2 separate regions of the Homo sapiens genome follow, and region 2 is linked to region 1. The links come from fine-mapping of genetic effects on gene expression. A gene starts in region 1. The other region holds a variant in brackets. All regions are shown on one strand. Distances are from middle to middle.

Region 1 (2,870 bases):
ACGGAGTCTAGCTCTGTGGCCCAGGCTGGAGTGCAGAGGCACGATCTCAGCTCACTGCAACCTCTGCCTCCCAGGTTCTAGCGATTCTCCCACCTCAGCCTCCTGAGTAGCTGGGACAGGCAATCGCCACCATGCCCGGCTAATTTTTGTATTTTTAGTAGGGACGGGGTTTCGCATGTTGATCAGGCTGGTCTCGAACTCCTGACCTCGTGATCCACCCACCTCGGCCTCCCAAACTTGAGTTTTTTGTTTAGCGACCCCTATGCATTTACGATATTGACTTAGTGATTTATTGAAATATGTGGTACGGACTAAAATGAGCATCCATTTACTACTTATTGAATAATAGCTTGTACTACGTTGTTCGCAAACGGCTCAGTACATGAGAATGAGTAAAACAGAATTCCCATTAAAAGAGAAATTCTAGCCAGATGTTCTCAAACTTTCTATTCTTGTGGTTCCCCTAAAGGTGTGCCTTTATTTGAGTACATTCTTTCTTTGGCCCTATCTGGGTTTTGTTAGGATGACTATAACTATGAGATTTAGGACAAAAAGGCTAAGAATGCCTTTAAAAAGAAATCTTGAAATTCTTCAATGGCTCTATGGGCACTGGCTCACCTCTTGACAAAATAGGGATGTTAGCATTTGCCTAAAGTAAAAAAAAAAAAAAAGTTTTTCTCAGTAACACAATTTTAGTTAAAAAATAATCTATGACGATAACTGGAGAAAGTATTGAAAAGGACTTCAACTCCTCCGAATCACTGAATAAAAGTCAATTAAAGAACATTCAAGGAGGTAGAAAGAGGAGGAAGATTCGAGCTCACATCACTTCCAAATCGAAGAGTTTTAAGAGAGACCCTGGAATTAAGAGAGACAGAGCGGAGAGGAGCAGGGATGGTGAAGGAAAACTTGACCAGAAGGAGCAGACCAATAAATGGTTTTGTAGATTCTCAAATATCTCACTTAAACGTCAGGGAAACTGAGGCACAGACAAGTTAAGTGGCTTGCCCAAGGCCACACAACTGAAGCCCAGTCCTTCTAACTTAGGGCGCAGCTCTGCTCTGGATTTGCAAGCGCGGGCCTCCCCTCCCAGCCTCTGTCCCCGCGCCACGCGCCCCTCCAGGACCCGCGCTCGGTTCAAGCCCAGCCTCCCGCAGAGCGGCCGCCCTTTTGGGGTTCCCCTGTCCCGCTCGAGGACCCGCGCAGCCTGGCCTTTGGGTGAGGGTCAGGGGCGAGGCGGGGCCGGGAAGGCCAGGAGCCATTACCTGCGCTGCGCCGCGCTCGCCCGAGAGGTCTGAGGCGAGGGCGCAGGACCGCGTATGTCACCTCCCGCCCCGCCAGGCCCGCCCCAAGGGGCCCCGCCACCCGCCGCCGCGCTCCCGCCGCCTGGGCCCTCCCGCCGCGCGACCAACGAGGCAGTTGGGCCTCTCCCTCCCCGCGCGCGGCGCCGCCGCGTGTTGCCATGGGGACGTCGCGGCCCGAACTCGTGGCCGTCGGAGTGGGGGATGGGCGCGGCGGCGGCGGCAGGCGCTGCCCTGTGCGGCTCCTCGGCTGCCTCCAACCTCACCCCGCGCGAGCGCGACCTCGCTGTCCCGCAGTTATACGTCCAGTGCCCCCTCTATTCTGGGTCCTTTCCTCTTTGTAGTCCCACTGCCTACCCCAAGGCTGGGCACCCAAGCTGCAGCCCGGAAATACTTGTTGAATGAATGAACCAAATAGATCACGAAGGAACTGTAAACCGCTGGGGAGTTCATCATCCAGGTTCCTTAAATCCCCTTGGCCCTCTTTCCTCTTACCCAAATTTGAAGTGGCATGAAAAAGAAATAAACTTCGGGTAAAGAGAACTGCTTTTATCTCCGTTCACCCTAGCGTCTTCCAGCTGGGAGGAGCTGGATTTCACCGCTCAGCCCCTGGTTCCTGTGGTGATAACAGCATCAGCTTGTACCTGACTTTCCCGTCAAGCGCGATGGGTCCTTAAAACACTGCCAGTCAGGCGAACGGACAGTGTTGCCTCCCTTCAGGGAGAAGAGAATAGCTTCTAAGAGGAGAAGCTGGAACGAAACTCAACGGGACTGATTCCAGATTCTTTCCTTTTTCCACCAAATTCCAAGAGTCATTGATGACAGATTTTCTGTCTCCATTTCATAGAGGAAATAATAGGAAAGAATATATGTTTTCCAACTGACATCTTGAGTGATTTGTTTTAAGCACTTGAATTTTGTATTTGATTTATTTTAACCAAATAATTCCTTCCTAACACATGGAGTCGACTACTTAATTCTTAAAGTCTTTTATTTGCACTTTACTTTCATCACTTTAACGCTAATTTGCTACTTTAATATTCTATGAATTTAATGCGCACCCACATCCCTCCGTCCAGGTCCCATCTGAATTTTATAAAACCATTATGCTGTTTCTTGACAAATTGAGCTTCATAGATGAATTGTATACGGTCACCTGGGATATCAGTTCTAACAGGTGTTTCATAGCTCTCATGTTTGCATGAAGAGAGTGACTGTGTTATCTTAACTTGAAACTTTTCATTATTCTGAAAACGCGTATATTCTTTATTCTTATCTGAATTGAATGGGTCAATGTATTTTTTCTAACCCAAGGAAGGGAAAATGGAACTAGGAACGAAATTTAATGAAATCTCAGGATGCCCAAGATCACTAAGGCTATGTAACATTGCTAAGTGCTTCCATGTTCATTATTTCTTTAGAGGCTCAGAAATACACTCAGCAAGTGTATCAGGTGTTATTAATAGCTTCTTTCAGAAGATTAGGAAACCCAGGCTTAGAGAGAATGAAGGATATGTCCATGGATTTGTCCATGGATTTGCACTTGAAATGGATGATACATCAAGATGT
Region 2 (2,920 bases), 67 kb before region 1:
CCAACCTGGCCAACATGGCTAAACCCCATCTCTACTAAAAATATATAAAAATTAGCTGGACATGGTGGCATGTGCCTGTAATCCCAGCTGCTTGGGAGGCTGAGGCAGGAGAATTGCTTGAACCCGGGAGGTGGAGGCTGCAGTGAGCCAAGATCATGCCGCTGCACTCCAGCCTGGGTGACAGAGTGAGACTCCATCTCAAAAAAAAAAAAAAAAATTTGACATGAAAAAGACAAATAAGCCAAAAGAAAAATGGGCAAAGGATATATCTAATTGATATTGGTACACATTGTCAATGAATATACAAAAATATGTTCACCTGGTACTCAGGGAAATGCAAATTAAAGAGCTATTGAGAAATTACTTTATAACCATCAGAATGACAAAAATTAAAAAGACCTATAACACCTATGCCTACAAGAATGAAATTTTAAAAGGTACTCATACAAAGATGGTAGACATATGATTTAACAATAGCTATTAAAATTAAAACACACATATCCTTTGAATTAGCAATTTTACTCCTAGGAAGCTATTCCAAGGTGTAAGTATAAGGATTTTTCTTACAGTACTGTTCATTCGGGCAAAACTCTGGAAACAGAGTGGAATAAATTATCCTTGAAATAAGTATAAAAATAGTTTAATAAATTTTGATACACACCATGGAATATTATCAAGCTATTATAAAAATAAAATAGGCTTAAATTAGTTACCTTGGAAAGATTCCAAGGGATACTGTTGAGTGAACAAAAACAGGACACAGAGAAGTACGTGTTATGATTCAACTTTAAAAAGATGATAAAATCCCCAAATAGGTACTATATGACTATATGTATATATATCTGAAAAAGTTTAAAATAATACATACCAAGTAGTTAACATGTATCATCTAGAGGAGGGGGTATAATGCGGGTAGATGAGTGGAGGAAAGAGGGAGGAGTAAAGCAAGCAGCAACAACAAAGTGACTGCACTAAAATTGCCCTTATGTAAGTTATGATTAAATTTATAAAAAATTATGTATATCTTATATGCTCATATATTTTTTCTAAGAAATTAGGAAAAATAAAGGGATGTTCATCTACTGATTTGTAGAGGTGTTCATGGACTGTCAAAAGGCAGTTTTGGAATAATGTATATATTATACATTTATTTCTGTAAAAGAACATTCAACCCATCTCCTCCTTATGTGTGCATATGCAAGCAAAAAGTTACAGAATGCTACAACAAACACTAATTCGTTAGCACTGGATAGCTTTGGATTGGGATAGGGTTGTGGATCATTAGCTTCTTTATACATCTCTGTGTCTGCTATTTCTTAAAAACACAAAAAGGTGAACAAAGTCAAACACCTAAAGGAGCCAGAATTAGGCAGGCTCAGTGGGGGCTGTGACGACCCAGAATATACACTTAAAAACATTCAAATTGAAATGTAAAAAAAATACAAATACCATTTTGTGAGTGAAAAAAGCACTCACGGAGGCAGGATCTGATTTAACTTTTTGTGTGTTCAGCATTTAGAAATAAAAATGTCATAGATGACACACAGTTTTTTTAATGTAACAAATAGGAAAATCACTTATGCCTTACTTTTTATCCATCTGTACTCCAATCACAGGATCCATTAACCATGCCCAAAGAAGAAGACAGAATGCTTCCAGAATGTTTGCACTCTTTTGATGCTAGAATATGGAC[C/A]ATTATGAGAACAAGTATATAATATCACAGAAATATAGTATCATAGCTTAAGGAGGGCCAATGGAGAATGTCTAATTCAACTCCCTCATTTTATAGCTAAGGAAACTGAGGCCTAATTAAGTAATTAACATATTCATCTCTTATCATTTCCATTCCTCATATGGTAGAAAATTATTTTAGAATTTTCTCAGAGCAAATAAATGATAAACAAGTTAACAATGATATTTCATTCATTCAATAAATAAAAATTCTCATATAAAATCAATTTTCTATTGTTACATTAAACAATTGAAAGGGGATGCACAGAGCCTGTTTAAGTTCCTTTGTGTAAACCTATAGAGCCATTGGTTAAAACCAGTAGTCCTTATCCTGAATAATTCATTTATTTCTCCCTCTTTTAAATCAACCAACACTCATTGAACACTTACTTTATGCCTGAGATGTGAGGTACTGGTGAAACAAACACCAATAAGACATGGTTCTCTGCTTGCCATCCACTGGGAAAGTGACAAGCAACAAAACAAGTCAGAACAAAATACGAACTAAATGTGGCATTCATTCTGACTGGGGTTTCAGGGGTGGCTTCGTTGAGGGGAAGATTGGCACTTGAATCAGGCCACATAGGATGTAGGATTTCAAAGGCAACAGCAAGAAGAAAAGCAAGGAAATAGCATGCTTGGCATATTTGAGGGAAATGATCAGAATTGAGCCCAATCCAACCAAAGAACAAGGGAGAAAACCAGACATTCCAATGTTCTAGCCTGAGGATAAAAGTAACCTCAACTGAAGCACAAGATAATTTACCACCCAACTCCTTCATGTCTAACACACAGCAAGTGCTCAATAAATGATGTCTAGGTTAATCGTGACCAATTCAGTAATCTCTTTGTTCAATTTATTGAATGATGTCAGCATATTACCATGTATTCTCCGGGGTCTAAATCTCCCATCATTCCTTTTAGATGTGTGTTTTCAGTTCTGACAGCTTTATATTTCATATCTGAGACCTGAAATTAGCAGATAAAAGGCAAATGTAAAATTCATAATAAAAACTCATAATTCTATTAAAATTTTGTCTTGTGAATACAAATATTTTCTAAGTGTAATGAAGGGAAACACTTCTTCGGTACGACCAATAACATTCAGGTATTCTTATTTAGTTCTCCTGTCTTTGGCAGGCACCACTTTACGTCTTTTTCTGATCAATGCTAAACTACAAGCATATAC

What was found.
Region 2: its variant is fine-mapped to the expression of DEUP1 in nasal epithelium (TOPMed, PIP 0.98).

Annotation. Positions count from the first base shown.
Region 1 is chr11:93,329,168-93,332,037 of GRCh38, reverse strand. DEUP1 (deuterosome assembly protein 1) reads right to left here and starts at 1,296. Exons shown (of 14, transcript NM_181645.4): 1 at 1,266-1,296. RefSeq lists an enhancer at 1,156-1,657.
Region 2 is chr11:93,396,019-93,398,938 of GRCh38, reverse strand. It overlaps DEUP1 (deuterosome assembly protein 1), which reads right to left. Exons shown (of 14, transcript NM_181645.4): 11 at 2,614-2,700. Among named protein-coding and RNA genes, the nearest start is that of DEUP1, 67 kb to the right of the region's middle. RefSeq lists an enhancer at 1-272. The variant C/A (reference allele first, on the strand shown) is at 1,694.